3 linked regions of the Homo sapiens genome follow. The protein of the gene in region 1 purifies or fractionates together with the protein of each later gene. This does not show direct contact. Each region holds a gene or a part of one and is shown in the gene's direction. Other genes may lie near its edges.

Region 1 (5,905 bases):
TTCATGTGATTAATGCCATTTCCTCTCTCTCCCCTCTGCAGATATATGTTGGGTAAAGGAGGAAAACGGAAGTTTGATGAGCATGAAGATGGGCTGGAAGGCAAAATCGTGTCTCCCTGTGACGGTCCATCCAAGGTGTCTTACACCTTACAGCGCCAGACTATCTTCAACATTTCCCTTATGAAACTCTATAACCACAGGCCCCTGACAGAGCCCAGCTTGCAAAAGACCGTTTTAATTAACAACATGTTGAGGCGGATCCAGGAGGAACTCAAACAGGAAGGCAGCCTGAGGCCCATGTTCACCCCCTCCTCCCAGCCCACCACCGAGCCCAGCGACAGCTACCGAGAGGCCCCGCCGGCCTTCAGCCACCTGGCGTCCCCGTCCTCCCACCCCTGCGACCTCGGAAGCACTACGCCCCTGGAGGCCTGCCTCACCCCGGCCTCACTGCTCGAGGACGACGATGACACGTTTTGCACCTCCCAGGCCATGCAGCCCACGGCTCCCACCAAACTGTCACCTCCAGCCCTCTTGCCAGAAAAGGACAGTTTCTCCTCTGCCTTGGACGAGATCGAGGAGCTCTGTCCCACATCTACCTCCACAGAGGCGGCCACGGCTGCGACTGACAGTGTGAAAGGGACCTCCAGCGAGGCTGGCACCCAGAAACTCGACGGTCCTCAAGAGAGCCGCGCAGATGACTCAAAACTGATGGACTCTCTGCCTGGGAATTTTGAAATAACGACGTCCACGGGTTTCCTGACAGACTTGACCCTGGATGACATCCTGTTTGCTGACATTGATACGTCCATGTATGATTTTGACCCCTGCACTTCCTCATCAGGGACAGCCTCAAAAATGGCCCCTGTGTCTGCCGACGACCTCCTCAAAACTCTGGCTCCTTACAGCAGTCAGCCTGTCACCCCAAGTCAGCCTTTCAAAATGGACCTCACAGAGCTGGACCACATCATGGAGGTGCTTGTTGGGTCCTAAGACCCAGGGACCCAGCGACTATGCCCACCCAGACCCCAGAGCGTTCCCATAACCCTGACAGTTCTCCACACTGTGCATGCACCCTTGCTTGCCTTTTTCAGAGAAAAAGAAAATTTTACAACAGGATCACACTAGTTTTTGCTTTGAGCAGAGTTGGAGTGCCTTCATCCAAGTATGACCACTTTTAATACACTTTTTTGAGTGGTTCCTCAGAGACCTACTACCCTGGTATAGGAAAGAATCCATTTGAAGACAATGTTGCAATGTTGAATGACAAAAATAAACAGTTCAAGTGAAGCACAAGGATTAAGTTGGAAAAGCTGTAAATTGCATGTGCATATTTGTCTATTTTTTCTATAAGTTTTATTGCAAGAGGTAAAGAAGAAAACTATATATATATATCTTATTTAGATAATCTCAGTACCTTTTCTGGCATTTTTGCCCTGTATAGGTTGACTTGGCAATTCGGCCTTTTTAGAGGCATTAACTACTCCTCGTAAGTGTTGCATTTACATGGCTGTTTAGAAAACTGCTGCCCAAATTTATTTTATATTTTTGTACAGATTCTGCAGTTTATGATATTGTTTTTCTAAAAACAAATGCTGTTTATACATATGAGATAGCTATTTTGATAGGATTTGCTCACATAGTTCCTGCAAACTTCAGATGTACAAGTTGCACTTGTACTTTTATAGAGTTGTAATGTTTTATATGTGTATGGTGCAAGAGAAAATTGGATCAAATCAATCTGCAGTTGATGTCCCCAAATGCAAACACAGGCACACACATGCACACACCCATAAACACACACACAGTGCTTTAAGAAAGGGCCAGGTGATATCACACCCAAATTTCACAAGCACTGACCCCCTGGCACCAACACCCGCCAGTACTGTGACTTCCAAAGCCAGAGCCACATGTGCTCATCAAACTTGCATTAAGCAGTTGGCGGGAGATGGCTGTGGAGCTGGGGGTTTAAGTGATGGTTCTCTTTTGCTCCCTCTTTTGAGGGTAAAGCTACTGTCTTTCTTAAGAGTGTATTTATGCCAAGTTTGCGCTTTTAATTGTTTTTATTTTGTTTTTTAATGAAAACCCAGATCTTTCCTTTTTGGCATAATTTTTATGATGACCTGAAATTTTACATCCGAACAAAATTTTACATCCGAAAAGCAACCAACTTCTTCATGGAACTCAGCCCTGTTGCAATGCTTAGGGCCCTTAAAGAAGAAAATCTCCCCAGAAGGCATCCATCATGTTGCTTAATTGTCTTCTGCAGCTTCCTTTCCCTAGAGCTTTCCCTGTGTTGCTAAGAGCTGAAAATGGCATCTTCGTGATCACCACAGTGAGCTTGGCTCGCCTCGGCCGGCCCGGGATGCACTCTTACAACATGTGTGACTCTTGAACCTGGAGTTCATCACATTACGTCACAGCTTCCCATCTGGTTGCTTTCCTGAGTCAGCTACTTCACACTTGTCAAGGCTGTTTTACCCCAAAACTCAGACAGGACTTTCTATGCATGTTTTCCCTCCTCCCCCCAATTCCCCCCCCCATCACCTTATCTCCCAGGACACACTTGAGAAGTAGCTTTTTATTCCTAGTGGTGTACATTTAATTTTAAAAAGGTTGCAATGTATCATGCTTGTTGCCGAAACTGTTTATGGCCTTCTTGTTTCAGTTTTTTCTTTTCTTCCAATGGTACTTTAGCTGTTGAGTGCAGGTTACAACCTATATTGTTATGCAGATGGCTTCTTTAGGAATAACTTTTATATTTATTTAAAAATTTTTAAATTATGGGATGTTTTGTTGTTGTTGTTGTCTTTGTTGTTGGTCATTTGTCAATATTCAGTCACCAATTCTGCTCACTTCTTGCCATGGATAAAATTGGGTCTTTCTGGCTAATTAAAAAAGACAACTTTATAAAATGGCACTTTAAGCAAGCCATAGTTAGTTTTATTTTTGTAATGCACATGGCAAAGCAAAGACGTTTGTGATGAAGGAACTGCTCATCTAAGCAAAAGATTTGAGTATGATATGATAAAGGCTTTCTACATTCTAATTTACTTTTTCCCCCCACTTGAATGTGTTTTAAAGGCTAATTATCAGCTCAGTAGAGCAGTGAGAAACTGATCAAATTGCACTTGTTCTCCTACAAGCAACCTCCACGCAGACACCTCGTACTGCTACAGGTGTGTCATTTCCTTTAATAGGACCAGGGACCATGTAACTGAGGTGAGGGTTGTAGTAGATGCTTCCAGTGTCAGTATGCCTGTTAATTTTAAGAGCTTCCCTTTCTTGCAGAGAACAAGTCTGCCCAGATTCCATGCTTTCTATAACTGGAGGACCTGGCAAACCTGCCGCATGCTGCACACATCTACCTACGTACACATATACAATAGTATTGATGATTCTGAACAATAACAGGGTAAAACAGTTGGTTTGCCATTGTTAAAAACTGATTTACAGTAACTTACAACAACTGTACTTTTGTTGGATTAGCAAATCATGTGTTTAAACAAATCCCATATGTTGGGCAACAGTTCAAATAAGCACGGAGAAGTGTTGCCCAAACTTGGTTCTCTGACTCTTATGTATTTGTAAGGCTGGGCTTCAAAATCAAAACAAAAACCCCAAAAACAGCAGGCAAATGCTTTTTAACTCTGACACCGTTGCCATAAATCCCTGATACTCAAAGTCTAACAAGAAAGACATGGAAAATTAGCAGCCCATTTTCAGAAAGATCAAAATGATCTAGGGTTCTAATTGCTTTTGCATCCTATTCTTACAAAGTGATGTCCCAACAGGGAACAGTAGGAGCTGGAGTGGGATCTCCAAGTCCCAGTTTGAGTGTGGGATGTGCTTCCAGCAGTGCCTTCCCTTTATGAAAGACATCACATGGCATCCAGGGCCAGGCAGGCAGCTTGAGGTGCCTTTACGAGAAAACCGAGCTGGGGCTGGGAGAGGACAGTTATTGACACTGATGTGCAATGAAGTGACAAGATGAGAGCAGAATCGTAAGAGCTTTGAATTTGAAGTGAGTTTTTTTCCCCCCATAAGTTATTTATTCCTTTTTTCTGTGTAAATATATTTATTTTACTGTGGAGCGCTAACATCTGGATCGTAACATGTGCAGAATGTATGGTAGGAATGTATTCTCTTGTAGGAATGTAAATCTGTATTAAAAGGGGGTCCAAGCCAGGCCCCCAGGTCTTCTCATTGTATGCACAGTCCGCATTCATTTTTACTCTTCTCTAATATGGGTCTATTTGAAATATGCAAAAGGTATGAGGAATGTTTTAATACCTCCAAATTTTTAAGAAAAGCATCAAAGGGTTGATATTTTTTAAAGTTTTTTTAGTAGCACTTTCTCTGGATGACAGAAGGAGCAACCACATGGGCACCCTTGTTCATACCAAAGGGTGAGCAGTGGCCAGAGCCTCCTCTGCACCTCTCGAGTGTCTTTACCAATTGAGCTTTTTATCGCCATAGCCCCTTGGAGTGCCCCAGCTGCCCTGAGGTCAATCAAGGAAAATTTCTTAATGAAATAAGCTCCAAAGAGCCAAAGTATCAACTTACAGATCGTTTTTAAAGCTTAAATTTATGAACCACCTTTGTGGTAAACAATGAATTATGAATACCGCAGGGCAGCCTTCTTAAATGACAAATGTAAAAAAAAAAAAAAAAAAGACTCTACTTCGTGCAGCAATTGCTACTCTATACGAATTGTCTTAATTTGAAAACCTTGCTGTTACAAATTGGACCTTTATACATTTTCTGAAAACAATGAAAAGAGTATATTTAACCTTTTCTGGCTGTAAATGGTTACCTTCCTGTAACTGCCCCGCACCTGGAGGCATGGAGTTGTGTGCATCCTGCTTATGTACAATTGTTTTCAGTGTTTCTAAGAATGAGTCTGAATGGTTCTTGAAAATTAGCCAGGATCAAATGCTATTGCAGACAAAGCCAATAAAAAGTTGGACTTCTTTTGGGGATAACAAGTTTTGGAAGAGAAATGCAGGCCATATGTGCGCATGACCGAGATTTTGAAAAAAGATGTACATAGTGACATGTTTGGTGCATGGTTTTTGAGGAGGGCTTTTGTCAAAAAGGAGGTATAACCTTTCCCCCACAGACCTGAGAGCTGTGCCTTTTCTATGCAATATTACAGACGTTACATCGGAACCCAGATGGCTGTATTCACATGTAGGTTTGGGCTGTAATCTAAACAATTGGACAGATTAAATGTACATGGAAATGAGCAGTCTTACTTTTGTAGTTTTATATTATACAATAAACAGTTAAAAGATGAGAGAGGCATGCTTGCAGTTTTCTTTTGATGGGAGCTCAATCAGCTTATTTGTGACAGTTTGCTCACATTAAGCAAAGTCCAGCAAGAGAGAGCAGCAGGGGGGCCCCGAAGGAGTGCGTGCTGTTGGTCTTCCTGAACCGTCCTGGTCTCAGGAACCACCCTTCTCTCCTGGTTCTCCTCCTGCTTCTTGGACCCTTCTGGACCTCCTTTTTCTCACATCTGTGCCCCAGCTCTCTTTAAAACATTGTCTTTTCCAGGGTTTGGCCCATGACTGCACTTCACTGAGCCTCCATTCCTGCTGCCTCTTGCTTTCCCAAGGTGATCTAATCCACTCAGGACTCTCAAAACTGGTCTCCAGCCCCTGCCTCTCTCCTGAGCTCCAGACTTCAGTATCTACCAAGATTTGCTCCCTCACTCTCAGCGCGTCTAAAGAGCTCTCGTTTCCCCTGGGGGCTGATTCTTCTGTGGGCTCGTTGTCTTCAGCACTCTGCTCCACGCTTGGCTCAGTTGCCCACCCTTGCACCCTGTTCCGCAGTCCCAGCCATGTCATTCCCTCTGCCACCACCTCTCCATCCTCACCATAGCGTCCCCAGCTCGGACCCTTTCTCT
Region 2 (7,112 bases), on another chromosome or scaffold:
TGAATCATGTTAAAGTCCTGCCTCTGACTCCTGACTGCTGTGCAGCCTTGGACAAGTTACTACACCTTCCTGAGCTTCACTTTCCCTTTGTAAAGGGAGAAATAATAACGACCTTTCATACAGGGTTGCTGGGATGATCAGTGATTTTGCTAATATCAAAAGTGCCCAGCACAGTGCTTGGGTTGTTGGAGGCATTGAACACATGGCATTGTTATTATTTATATGCCTTGTAACTGGAAGAGCCTGTGGGCAAACAGTGGATGCTAAAATTCAGTTTGCGGAAGAACCAGGTGCACAAACTCCTGTTCTACCTGTGGTTGAGTCTACACTCCCCCACCACACCCCAGCTGCTCTGATCTACCTCCTGTTCCTTGAGCAGGCCATTTTCTTTCTTGCTTCAGGGCGTTTGCAATGGCTGTTGCCTGGAATACCCACCTCCTGCCTTTCTCACCACTGACTCTTTCTCATCCTTTGGGCCCCATGTCCAATGTCATCTTTGCCCGTGGGAGCCCTGCTTGGGTTCCTGAGTCTCTTGTAAAATCTCAAACATCTTAGGAAGAGTTTAGGTTTTGTTAGTCATTCACATCTTGGTGTGAATTCGTCAGAGCAGGTTGGATTTTTTTTTTTTTTTTTTTTTTTTTTTTTGGTGGCAGGGCTGGGTGGCTTACTCTTGGCTGGGCTCAACTGCATTGAGGGTTATGGTGATGATTAGGTGTACCTGCAGGCCACCTGGGGGCACAGAGAACTTTGCATGAATGGGGTCAGGGTGTGGGGAGAGCAGTGCAGCTGATAGGGCACTGGGCCCTGGGCCCTGGACCCTGGAGGGTGCTAGGAAGTCTCCATCTAGTTAGACATTTCTCAAGAGCTGGATATGGTTCCAGGAAGGACTCTTCCTGGCTCTGTTCTTTCTCTTTTTGCGGCAGGCCTCAGTACTTAGCTTTAGAGTGAGTTGAATAAGCACTTCCAGACTAGACTGAACTTACAAAACCCATCCATCCTTCCTTTGCTTAGCACCATTTGCCAAGCACATCCTGCCCTGGGCAGCAGTGATGACCAAGACACAGGAGCTCAGCCAAGGGGAGGTGGTTCAGGCTGACCAGGTAGATCCTGGCAGTGACTGGGTCTTTCTGGGGAGCAACAGTCACTCTCATGTGCCTGACAGGTAAGGCACTTCCGGAGCACACTTTTCAGCTGAGGCCAGAGGCACAGCTTCCCCTTGTTTGAGCATCTCAGCCATCACACACTGTTGGACACTCATGCTTTTTGCATCTGCATAAAGGATGTACCCATGTTTTCCTAACTCCCATCCCTGGATGTCCTGTGTGATTTCAGAGTAGTCTGTTTATTCCCACAGAGTTGTCCTGATTTTATAGTTGAGGAAGTGAAGGATGCTTGGGAATTGCTAAGGTCATCATGGGGTCCTGAGGCTGTCTGAACGCAGCAGGCAGGCAGGTTTTCCTGCATGGAATTGTCTGCAGGTTTTGAACTGGTTGTGCCCTGGATACCATCTACTTTCTGCCCAGGAAACCACACTGAAGAGGGGATGCTGCTTGTGGGAGACTCAGCATTCAGTGAAATCTGCACCCTTATGGTGGACGTTGCAGCTGATCTCCACAACAGTTAGTCTCTCTTCTTCCAAGGAGAACACATATGGTTCCTAGTAAGAGATCTCAGGCCATAGCTGGATGTGATCAGTGCAAGGATGATCTCATTCCCCTTGCAGTGACTGGTTCCAGAATGGATGTGGGAGTCAGTTCTGGAGGTTGAGTGGAAAGTAGGGAGAACCACAGGTAGTTGGTCCCTCTCTTGTGATGGGAACAGGGAAACCTTGTGGTGGCTGGCAGCCATCTGACACCATGAGGGGAGCAAGTCTTAGGCCACCACCGTTGATGGCAGGGCAGAGAGTGAGTGAGATCCAGGACATAGAGGCCTGATGTCCAGGCCGCCTCTGAACTTCCAGTTACATGAGCTGTTACTTTTCCTTTTCGTTGTGCACTTTCAAGTCTCCGTTACTTGCAGCCCATAGCACCCCAACTCGTACAGCCCTGACTGCTTATCAAGAAAACCAGGAGGCTGATCTGTAACCCACAGCTAAGACTCGAGATACATAAAACCCAGAGGGATTTTTGTTTGCTTTCTGTTTTGAGAACCCTCTTTCATTTCACTCAAGTCAAGGTTGCCAATTTCTGGTTTTCCCTCCTCAGTCCTATTGAGGAGGTATTTTTGGTCAGATAAGAGAGCCTGAGATCTGGCATCGGGAGATCTGGGTTCCTGGTGGGGTCTGACCCTGGGTCTGTAATATTGGGCAGGTCACACGGTCTCTCTGAGCCTCAGTTTATTCTTAATAGATCAGTAAGTGATGATGTCTATTCTTTAGGGGCCAGAGTTAGACTAGCCCTTAGAACTGTCATCAGACTGGCTAGCCTAACTTCCACCCCAACCTATGGGGAAACTGAGGCTAAGAGGGGGGACATTAGTGGTGGCACAGAGGGAGATTAGGGAGAGTCAGCCTTTGACTTTTGAAAATCAAGATGTGGACTGTTCAGATTCTGTGTTCCTTTCGCTTCTGTTTGGAAACGCCACTTACATAAGCTTCCCTTGGGCTTCACAGCGAGTGTGGGCTCCATTTCAGTGCTGGGGTGCCCTCCATCAAATCACATCACTTTCTGAGCCTCAGTTTCCCTGCACTGCCTGGTGCCCTGGGTTGTCATGAGGCTGTAAGGAGCCAAGGGCATGTGGACTCTGAAGTTCTACACGTGTAAAAGGCGACTGCTGTCAATTTCCCCAAATTGTAGTGTAGGCCAACTCCCACGCCCCTGCTGTAAGCAATGTGCTCCTTTCTTTTTAATCAACCCGAACTTAAAGCTTGGCGCAGTCACAGAGCACGGTTTTTCTCATTTTCTTTCTGGAAGATGAAAATCAAATTCTAATAAAATTTTTCCACTCCATCTCCTGACTGTTGTCATTTGCTACACTTTTTAGTGTTTATCCTTAAAGCTTGCAGAGCTAAGGGATGTTTGGTAAGAAGTGTTTAGGCCTTGAGACTGGAAGAGCCGCTGTATGAAGCGCTAGGCTCCATGGAGAGTGTGATGGGGAGTAAGAGAAGGAGAGTGAACTCCTGTGAGTCCACCAAGCAGAGGGACATACTCTCAGCAACTGGGGTATTTCCTTCCAGTCTTTTTTTAATGCCCATGTCTGTTTTTAATGAAAACTGTAATCTGTCTGTATCAACAATTTTGAAGGCTACTTTTCTAGTTTGGCATGAGATTATAGGAATTTTCCAGGGCTTTGCTCCAGGGCTGGCTTCATGGATATGCAACCTGTGTGGTCATCTAGGTCCCCACACTCAGAAGGACCTGTGCTTGGGTTCATGTTCTGCTGTTACTATCTTGAAATTTTTAAGAATTTCACTTTGGATCCTGTGTTTTGTAAGCGAAATCTGATGGGACGGGGGAGCCTGGGAATGAGCAGAGGGGTACGTGTGGCAGGCGAGTCTGTGGTTACACATATTGGCTCCCACAGCACGCTACCCTGTGTTCACTTGAGCGTCTGAGCCCCATGCACAGTGGACAGCTCATGCACCTTCTCAGTGCGTCTGTAGTTTCACAGGCAGGGGCCATGCTTTCAAATAATGCTCCAAGGCATTGATGTTCTCATGCAGTGACTTCTAAGAAACATGAATGACGCAGGAACCCTATGGTGTCCTTTCTTAACGTGTGTTACGTGCCCATATTTGCCAATCGCTGACACTGAAAATGATTACACAGAAGGGAAGGGAAAAAGAGGGCACCTATAGTTCCTTTTCCTCCTAGTCCTTCCTTGTTTATTATTGAACCAAGGGTAGAGGGTGTTGGAAGAATGTACACATATCCAGAAATGAAATAAGAACAGTTAAGTTAGTTTCCTCTGCTCTGGTAAGAACAAAATCCATATGCGAAATATAACTTGTGCATTTTGGTGAGTCTACATTCCAGTTACGTGCTCTTATGTTTGCATTTAAAATTGGAGGTGCACACTAGAATGGTGAGTGATAAAATGCACGCTAAGAGTTTAAGCTTTTTTTTTTTTAAATTTGAATTGACATTAAATAGCAAATAACACCATGACAAAATATGGAAGGCATGAAAAGGTTTTGTATCTTAGCACCTTTAATGATGCTTTTCCTTTGCTTTTTGAATAAGAGGCTCTGCATTTTCATTTTTCCCTGTGCCCCACGAATTATAGGGTTGGCCCTGCTCTGCTGGAACTCTGGGTAGGGTGAACTCCTTGGCCCTGCCTTCTACCTCCTTGGCTTTCGTGATTGGTGGAAATGGTGAGAGCCTGCCATCCATTGGGCAGCTCTTCCCTATGGGGAGGGGTTACAATATTAAATGTCCGTGCTCCTCTCTCACCCATTGGGTCCATGGGCCTCTGACTTCCAGGTTGCTCTACAGGGGAGAGGCCAACAGTTATCTTATTTTACAAGCTAGAAGTTAGACCTACCTCTCCCCGCAGGACCAAGGGGTGGGGAGGTGAAGTAGGGGTCCATAGCTCTTTTTTTTCCTACAGGTTTACCATTAATAAAGCAGATTTTTTTATTCCTGTCTTGCGGCCAGTCTTTTCTGTGTAATCCCAAGTCCCAGCAAGGAAGAGGGGTGACTGGTTACCTTGGCCCCGCCCCCAAGTCACACAGTACACGTATTGACAACCATCATTTCATTGGCTGCATACTATTCCTGTGATACATGTGTCATCATTCAGTAGTTCAATTAATCATTTCCTTATGGCTGGATATTTAGTTCCCTCCCTTCCCTCCCTCCCTCCCTTCCTCCCTTCCTTCCTTCTCTCTCTCTCTGTCTCTCCCCCACACACTTTCTTATTTTCATAACTAACACTGCAGGAATGAACACCATTTGTGTGTGTGAAGACCCCCTACTCCCATCGTTCCCCCTTAACCTTGGGATGATGCTCTTCAGAAGGAATTCCACACGTGCTATTTCATATAAAGATCACTAGCATTTTTAATGTTGTTGACACACATTGGCAGATTATTCTCCAGAAAGTTTTTCTCTTTAACCACATGCTGATCAACATTAGGTAGTCTAATTTGTTTGACCTTTGCAAATATCAAAGATGAAAAATATTTATTGTAATTCACGTCTGCATACCAATGAGGTTGAACATTTTTTCCTTTTGTTCAGCGGGTATTGGCTGATCCCTGTTATGTGCCAGGGTGACATTAGATTCTAGACATACAAAGTTGAAGAGCAAGGCTGTGTCTGCCTTGAAATGTGGACTCTCCTCTCCCAGTGTCTTGGGTGCCACTGCGGGACCTAGCTACTTCTCAGGAGAGAGTCTGAAGCTGCTGGAGGAGTCTGTACATCCCTCAGCACCCTGGGGAGTCCTGTTAGTTACACAGGGCCTTGCAAAGACAGGCATCTCACCATTAAGCCCTTGAGCAGAATGATCCAAGTGGACTTTAGGATGAAATAATTACAAAACAAACACAATAGCCATTATTATGATTCACCATTTATTGGCTATGTACTATAATACTATATGCTGGACATGAGGCTGCGTGCATCTCATTGGAGATGCCCCAGACCTGATGTTGTGTATATTATTTCCCCATTTTACAGAGGAGAAAACTGAGGCTGAGGTGCTTGTTCAATGTCACATAGTTTGTAAGGGACAGAGCTGAGTTTTGAATGCAGCCTGCCAAACCCACGCTCCTGACTGCTACATTAATTGGCTGGGACCCACAGGGCAGGGTTAGGTGGCCTGTTCAGTTCTGATTATGCACCACACTTAGGAGATTTTGGGATTTGAACTAGACTACCTGGCTTGGTGCTCTTGCTATCTGTGTTGCGATGAAAGGCAATCGAGAGGGTTCAGCAGGAGGAGAGACCCCCTTCACGGCACAGGTAGATGGCAGTGGCAGAGGCCACAATTGGACACGTGGTCCAGGGACTGAAGGGCAGGTGGCATTTCCAGGTTGGGGGGTGATGATGTGCTGGGACATGGTATTCTAGCGCATTCTGGGCAGGAGGAACGGTGTGTGCAAAGTGGCATAACACTTGTCCCCTGACAGTGTCCAGCTCCTCTGCTTGAGACCAGGAGGCAGTTAGTTAGTTGCCAGCCGGCCCGGGAGCAGGACACACCTGGGGGCCCCTGTGCTGCCCAGGACAGGCACTGCCCTCCTTGCACAGTGGGGGCCATTGTCCTCCAGAACCCAGGGCTGAATGTCCCATTGAGGCAGAACAAAGGCTGCTCAGAGGTTCCCAGCTGGGGTGTGGGCTGCCGCAAGCAGGGATGGGATCTCCAACTGCAGGCCAAGGGCCTCCTCCAGGCTGGCCTGGCCTCCTGCAGCCCCACCCCCACCCCTCCTCAGGACCAGGACTGTTGCTGCTGGAGGCTGGACCTGGGCTTGGGCTCCCAGGCCTGTGCTCTGGGTCTGGCACAGCTGCCGTGCCCTTGGCAGCTTCTTCATCCCCTGGGCAATTTCCCCATCTATGAAGCAGAGAGAGAGCGAGCTCCCAACCAGCAAGGCTTTCAGGCAGAATTGAATGAAATAGTGCACACTCTGTAGGTTAATCTCAATAAAAGGGAGCTCTTTCATGATCATGATTAGCTTCTGAATGTTTTTTTACAATTTCAAAAAAGTTTTGATGCAAACTTTCAAATTTGTGCCACTTCTGGGCCAAAGTGTTTAAGAAGGGAGTGCACCTTCCCCCCTCCCTCTGTCCCAGAGAAGGGAGAGATGCCGCTCCCTGGAGCCCCTCATCACTCTGTGGAAGGGACTGCTGGCCAACTGTTACAAGAGGAGAAACTTCTTTGCATTTGTGAGAAAATAGTCTATTGAACTGCTTCCAATCTATCAAGATCTTGCTGTACTTCCTTCATTTACTCTCCCCTGCTTTTGGATGAAGAATTTTTAGGCAAATCCAAGACTCCTGTCATTTCCCCGTTCCATCTGCAGGCATCTCTGAGTGTTGAGGGCATTTCTTGTAGCCCAGTGCTGTTATCCCACCTCACAAAACATATCCTGATTCTTTGTTACCTAAATTCTGGTCCATTTTATGAACGTCCCCAGTTGTCTGAGAAATGTCTCTTATGGTTGGGTGGTTTGGCCC
Region 3 (7,141 bases), on another chromosome or scaffold:
GGGCTGGCTCGGGGTCCTCCTGACACCCGCTCTGCCTCTAGATCTTCCCTGGCAACTGGGACAACCACTCCCACAAGAAGAACTTGTTTGAGACGCCCATCCTGGCTCGCTATGTGCGCATCCTGCCTGTAGCCTGGCACAACCGCATCGCCCTGCGCCTGGAGCTGCTGGGCTGTTAGTGGCCACCTGCCACCCCCAGGTCTTCCTGCTTTCCATGGGCCCGCTGCCTCTTGGCTTCTCAGCCCCTTTAAATCACCATAGGGCTGGGGACTGGGGAAGGGGAGGGTGTTCAGAGGCAGCACCACCACACAGTCACCCCTCCCTCCCTCTTTCCCACCCTCCACCTCTCACGGGCCCTGCCCCAGCCCCTAAGCCCCGTCCCCTAACCCCCAGTCCTCACTGTCCTGTTTTCTTAGGCACTGAGGGATCTGAGTAGGTCTGGGATGGACAGGAAAGGGCAAAGTAGGGCGTGTGGTTTCCCTGCCCCTGTCCGGACCGCCGATCCCAGGTGCGTGTGTCTCTGTCTCTCCTAGCCCCTCTCTCACACATCACATTCCCATGGTGGCCTCAAGAAAGGCCCGGAAGCGCCAGGCTGGAGATAACAGCCTCTTGCCCGTCGGCCCTGCGTCGGCCCTGGGGTACCATGTGGCCACAACTGCTGTGGCCCCCTGTCCCCAAGACACTTCCCCTTGTCTCCCTGGTTGCCTCTCTTGCCCCTTGTCCTGAAGCCCAGCGACACAGAAGGGGGTGGGGCGGGTCTATGGGGAGAAAGGGAGCGAGGTCAGAGGAGGGCATGGGTTGGCAGGGTGGGCGTTTGGGGCCCTCTATGCTGGCTTTTCACCCCAGAGGACACAGGCAGCTTCCAAAATATATTTATCTTCTTCACGGGAACTCTTGGTGTGGTTCGTTATTGTTTCATGGGAATGGGATTTAAATTGCGCTGGTTTCCCCATCCCCCACCTGTGGTCCTCCCTGAGCCCCAGCTTGCTTGCTTGCTTTTTTTTTTTTTTTTTTGAGATGGAGTCTTGCTCTGTCGCCAGGCTGGAGTGCAGTGGTGTGATCTCGGCTCATTGCAATCTCTGCCTCCTGGGTTCAAGCATTTCTCCTACCTCAGCCTCCCAAGTAGCTGGGACTATAGGTGCACACCACCATGCCCAGCTAAGTTTTATATTTTTAGTAGAGACAGGGTTTCACCGTGTTGGCCAGGATTGTCTCAATCTCTTGACCTTGTGATCCACCTGCCTCGGCCTCCCAAAGTGCTGGGATTACAGGCGTGAGCCACCGTGCCCAGCCCCATCTTTCTTTATGTCACCTGCCTGACTACACATAGCTTCATAGCAGGAGGCTGGAGACTTTGGTCCAGGGCGGCCTGAAGGAAGTCAGGACTTCCAGGTCCTCAAAACCTGACTTCCCCTCTTCCCTCTGCTTTCTACCTCCATGCCGTCTGGCCCTGAGCCCTACAACTGCTGCCTGGTCAGGGGCCCAGCGAGTGCTGGCAGACACTGTCTCCTGAATGCTTTTGCTCCCTTCCTGCCAGGAAGACTGGCTGGGGCAGCTGGTTTTCCCCTTCAGCAGTTTCCATTCTCTCTGCAACTGGAGTGGTGGGCTGGAGAAACTATAAGAAACTCAGTGAACCTGGATGCCTTCCGAACTGCGGGAGTTCCTGGGGTGGGTGCAGCGTGGGACTGGAGGAGGGGGCCGGGGCTCTGCCAAGTGGGCATGAGGCCTCCTGCCTGAACACACTGGTTCCTGGTAGGCCACTGGCGTGTGTGCTCCAGGGATACCCTCTCTGCCCTCCCCTGTGTGGGGGTCATCAAGAAGTGGGGGTGGGCCTTGCGGGCCAGTGTCTTGGTGATCTGGAAGGGTGACTTGCAGGCAGAGGCTTGGCTAGCTTGGGAAGGGGTGTAGGAAAAACCACCCTCTTTGTCAAGGTGAATTTTTCCAAACTTTGGGAGCCGGCTGTGTTCTGCAGGCAGGGGGTGCATCTGAGCAGCAGGAGGTGGGGCCGCCTCTGAGCAGCAGGAGGTGGGGCCGCCTCTGAGCAGCAGGAGGTGGGGCCACAGGGCTGCCAAAGGGAGGGCGTGGCTTTGCTGGAACCACATCAGGGAAATGTGTCTGGAAGTGGTTCCTTTCTGAGACCTGCGGTTGCTGGGCTCCTGGGCCTAGCAGGGTCTGAATAAAAGGCCCAGGCCGTGGTCTTCGTAGGAACTGAGGATGGGGGACTCCCTTCCCCTGGGTGTCCCTTGGCCTACTGCCTCCCGTTTCAGAGCTCTCTTCTGCGGAGCGGTGTGGATTGGGTTTAGAGCCAAGCCTTTCTGCGTGCTTCCAAGCCTCAGGTCTCCCTCCCGGGGGAGTTTCCTGCCCTGAACCCCTGTTCCAGCATACCCTGGGGATAAGCAGACAGTGGGAGAAGCATCTCTGCTCTGGGATGGGTTGGCCACAGCCTTCTAAAAGTCCCCCTCCTGGGACCCTGGAGTGGAGTCCCCTCACTCCTGACCCCCTCCTTCCTTCCTTGGCTTCTCTCCCTCAGCAGTGTCTTCCATTTGCCCAGCTTTTACCATCACCCCTACACATTGACTTTTTTCTGCCCCACTGCAAGGCAGAGGGTGAGCGTTCAGATTCCACCTGCTGGCTACCCCTACCCCTGGCTGGCATGTTCAACTCGACTTAACTGTAGCAAAATGTGCTCTCCCTACTGTCCATCCTCTCCCCTGTCGGGAACCTGCAGAGGGACCTACCTTGGCTCCCCTTTGCCCATCAAGCCTGGCGTTCCTTTTAGGTGTAGTTTACCTGTTGATCACAGTTCTTTGTGCTCCAATGTGCCCCTGGCTGTGTGTAACACACACACATGCACACACACACACACACTCATGGGCCAACTTGAGCTGTGTTTAGGAAGAGGCTCTGAGCTCTGTGACCCTGTGACCCTTCGACCCTTCCCCCAGCCAAAGCTGAAGGACCTCCTTAGTCTTTTCTGCTGAGGAAACATCGGGCTGTCCAGGCCAGGGCCCCCATTGGTCTGGACAGGAAAGAAAACACCCTGTCCAAACAGAGGCATCCTGAGCGGCTGCCTGGATGGCTGTGCTGATTAGCAGGATTCCGAAGGGAGGCCCACCCCTGTTGGAGGACCACTCAGAAGCCTGATTGCCCCTGCAGGCTGCAGAGGTATCCCACCCTGTGTCTCCCCTCCCAGCCAGGGCCACTCATTCAAGCCCCATGTGCTGGGGATAGCACCTGCTATGTGCCTGACAGTGAGTTGGGAATCTGGCCAGTGTTTCATGATGGCCAAACTCAGGGGCATGAGGACATCAGCAACCCCTTGCTTTTTTTTTTTTTTTTTTTTTGAGACGGAGTTTTGCTCTTGTTGCCCAGGCTGGAGCACAATGGCATGATCTCAGCTCACTGCAACCTCCGCCTCCTGGGTTCAAGCAATTCTCCTGCCTCAGCCTCCCAAGTAGCTGGGATTACAGGCATGCTCCACCACGCCCAGCTAATTTTGTATTTTTAGTAGGGACAGGGTTTCACCATGTTGCCCAGGCTGGTCTTGAACTCCTGACCTCAGGTGATCCACCGGCCTCCACCTCCCAAAGTGCTGGGGTTACAAGCATGAGCCACTCACTGCACCTGGCCTCACCCCCTTGCTTTCTATTTGGAAAAGAAAGTAATACAGAAGTCTCACCCCTTCCACAATCAAAGGTGGGGAGCAGCCTTAGCCCCTAGCAGAATGCTGGACAGGGGCTTCCCCTGCTTACTCCCACTGTTTTTGGTATACCAGGCTTTCTAAGGGGATCCCCCCTCCCCAAACTCTCCTATTCCACCCCTACTCTCCTTTCCCAAGACGTGAGGGCCTCAACTCTTGCACACCCTCTTTGCGGTGGTTCCCAGCGAGTCTGGAGACCGCTCAAGCCTGCAGCAGCTCCTCCCTTCGAGCCCAGCCCTTGGGAGGGAAAGGTGCGCGTGTTCCTTTAAGGGGCTGGTCTGGCGGGAGCGCGGGGGTTTTTCTGCTGCCGCTTCCTTTCTGCCCTTTTAATTTCCCCGAAATCAGACTGCTGCCTTGGACCGGGACAGCTCGCGGCCCCCGAGAGCTCTAGCCGTCGAGGAGCTGCCTGGGGACGGTACGTGGCTTAGGGGTCGCTGGGCTTCTGGGGCTGTGTGCGGGCCGGGTTCCTCCCTTACCGCTTTGGGTGCCCTGCGGGTCCCCACACCTCCCGGGCAGGGTCCGGGGAAGGGGCAGGAGGCGTGGGCCGGGCACTGCGGAGGCCCGGGCTGAGATGGGCTGTGATCGCGGGCGAGGGGCGCCCGGGGCACAAGTGGGGAGGGAGCGGCGCGGGGATGCGGGCGCCGGACCCTCGTGCCCACCGTGAGGGAGCAGAGCCCGAGCGGACCCCGTGGCCTCCGAGACCACCGTCCGCCTCCAGCCCCCTTCCTGCCAGGGTCCGCTTGGCTCTCTCCCCTGTCGTCTGTCCAGGGTCGGCTGCCTCCAGTGCCGTCCGCGGCGCCCCAGGCCCTGCCCCTGGGTATCTGTTGGATGCTCCGGGGGCCCCGGGAGTCCTGGGAGGGGCTGAGGGCAACCTGCGAGGCGGCTGGCGGACCTGCGCCTCTGGACCGCAGCTGGCCGGCTCTGGGCGCCTGGGGCAAAGGCAACTGATGCCTATGGGTTCCAGACCTCGCTCACCGGGGTTCTTGCCCCAGGGACAGCGAGGCCAGAAGGGTAGGGAGGGTGGAGGGCAGAGCCCTGGGTGGGAGATGGCGACCCTCAGGGAGAAACGTAGGCTTGTGCGCAGCCAGTATGGAAACAGCACGGCACTTGGACCCAGTCCTGCCACCAGCTCGTTGGCAGCCACAGGCCACAGGCAGCCTGTAAACCTGTTGGGACCTTGGTGTCCAGCGCTGACCCGCGGGAGTGCCTGTGCTCCCTGGAGTAGGGGGCAGCGATTGAGAGGGGCCCTGGCTTCTCTCCCTCGACGCCGCCCGGGCCAGCGGATTGGGAAACACCTCCGGTTTTCATTCTCCTGGGGGCTGCAGGTTTCAAAGGCGGAGATCAAGCCTTGTGCAAACAGGGACAGGGATGTCAAATTTCTCGCTGGGAGCAGCGCTCGTGCAGACCTCGCGGGCGATGCTGCCTCCTGCTGGTACCTGGGGGACTTGTACTCACGGAAGGCCCAGTGCGGACATGCACCTGGCAGGGAGGTGGCACCTACCCTCCCTCCAAGCCCAGGCTTATTGTTCTTGGGTGGAGGGGTCCCTAGGCTGGGGCGCCTGGGAAAAGCAAAGGGCTGGTCATCAGGAAACCTGAACTTTCTCTAAGTTCGAGATATTTGACAAAGATAACGCCTTGGGTAGTTCACTGACCTCCACTCTCTTGGCCTCAGTTTCCTCAACTGTGAAGAGGAGGCAGTGGTGACCACTTTGTCTCGTAGGCAGTGAGAGAGGAGAAAGAGCCACTGAGATGGTGTAAGACTTCACTGTGTGAACTGCTCACCAGAGTAGTAACAGGTCATATTTTCCCAGTGCTTGCTCCTTATCAAGCATCAAGCAGTATTTTCAGTGCTCTGCAGCTATTCTCTCCCTTAATCTTCACGAGAGTGTTTTCTGTTTGGTATTGTCGTGACCGCCCCCCCCACCCCAACTTTTTTTTTTTTTTTGAGATGGAGTCTCACTCTTCTTGCCCAGACTGGAGTGCAATGGCTCAATCTCGGCTCACTGCAACCTCCGCCTCCTGGGTTCAAGCGATTCTTCTGCTTCAGCCTCCCGAGTAGCTGGGACTACAAGCGCTCATCACCACACTCGGCTAATTTTTGTATTTTTAGTAGAGATGGGGTTTCACCGTGTTGGCCAGGCTAGTCTTGAACTCTTGACCTCAGGTGATCTGCCCACCTCAGCCTCCCAAAGTGCAGGGATAACAGGCATGAGGCACTGTGCCTGGCTTGTGACCCCCATTTTAAAGATGAAGAAACTGAGGCTCAGAGAGGTGCAGCGACTTGTCCAATGACAGAGGGTTAGTAAGTGGGTGGAGCCAGAACTGAATGCAGGCAGCCAATCTGCTTCTAGAGCCTGAAATCTTTGCCATGTTCATTTGTTGAGCACCTGCTGCATGCCAGGGACCAGACATCATACATCTTCTATAATTGTCACCACAGCCCATTTTTTTTTTTTGAGCTGGAGTCTTGCTCTGTCGGCCAGTCTGGAGTGCAGTGGTGTGGTCTTGGCTCACTGCAACTTCCGCCTCCTGGGTTCAAACAATTCTCCTGCCTTAGCCACCCCAGTAGCTGGGATTACAGGCATCTGCCACCACACCCAGCTAAATTTTGTATTTTCATTAGAGATGGGGGTTTCACTGTGTTGGCCAGGCCAGTCTCGAACTCCTGACCTCAGGTGATCCACCCCCTCAGCTTCCCCAAATGCTGTAGGATTACAGGTGTGAGCCACTGCACCCGGCCTTAAGTTCCTTTTTTTTACAGATGAGGAAATGGAGGCACAGAGAGGTGAACTTGCCCGAAGTCACTCAGCAGGATGCAGTGTGTCCAGCTCCAATACCGAGCCCAGGTCTGAGTGCCCAGACAGGACTCCAGAAGATTTGGGGAACTATCCACTGCCAAGGTGACTGGGCTGGACTTGGTCTTGGGCCTTCCAGCTGGTGGCACCTCTGTGGTGGTCCTGAGGAGTTGGTGGCTGGATAGCCATGGTAGGGGAGCAGAGGCTACCCATCCCTCCCCTCAGTGGTAGTGGTCAGGGATGGTCAGAGATGGACCTGAGGCAAGGCAGCAACCAAGTGGCAATTGCCACTCCTGACTCCCACACAGGACTCTGTCCTGTGCACTGACCTTAGCATTCAAGGCTGTGCTTGTCCTCAGCCCCCGAGTTCCCCTTTAGTCTTCTCTGGAGAGAGGAAATTTTCTGTTCAGAGAGGTCAAATGACTTTCCCAGGGTCACCCAGCTAGCAGGTGGCAGAGCCAAGACCCAACCTCAATGAGTTTAACTTGAAACCTTGGGCCTGTGTGCTGCTCCTCTCTCAGAGAGGCCTGGAAAATGGCCAGCTTCCTCCTGGCCTTTTGTTCTTGGGCACAGGGCTGATCTTTTCTTATAATTCCTTTTGTTTTTCTTTTCTTTTTTTTTTGAGATGCAGTTTCACTCTGTCGCC

The links.
Region 2: the proteins of SERTAD2 (region 1) and PPP2R2C purify together in Homo sapiens (co-immunoprecipitation; 2 studies listed by BioGRID and IntAct, with this or other methods). This does not show direct contact.
Region 3: the proteins of SERTAD2 (region 1) and HAPLN3 purify together in Homo sapiens (co-immunoprecipitation; 2 studies listed by BioGRID and IntAct, with this or other methods). This does not show direct contact.

The regions. Positions count from the first base shown.
Region 1 is NC_000002.12:64,631,012-64,636,916, reverse strand, and holds the end of SERTAD2 (SERTA domain-containing protein 2), read left to right. Parts: intron 1-41; 5' UTR 42-45; coding exon 46-990; 3' UTR 991-5,296; downstream 5,297-5,905. UniProt on the Homo sapiens protein: Acts at E2F-responsive promoters as coregulator to integrate signals provided by PHD- and/or bromodomain-containing transcription factors.
Region 2 is NC_000004.12:6,462,611-6,469,722, reverse strand, and holds part of PPP2R2C (protein phosphatase 2, regulatory subunit B, gamma), read left to right. Parts: intron 1-7,112. UniProt on the Homo sapiens protein: The B regulatory subunit might modulate substrate selectivity and catalytic activity, and might also direct the localization of the catalytic enzyme to a particular subcellular compartment.
Region 3 is NC_000015.10:88,892,433-88,899,573, reverse strand, and holds the start of HAPLN3 (hyaluronan and proteoglycan link protein 3 isoform 2 precursor), read left to right. Parts: upstream 1-4,029; 5' UTR 4,030-4,115; intron 4,116-6,461; coding exon of another isoform or gene 6,462-6,600; intron 6,601-7,141. Other genes in the region: MFGE8 (lactadherin isoform a preproprotein), read left to right, coding at 42-179. UniProt on the Homo sapiens protein: May function in hyaluronic acid binding.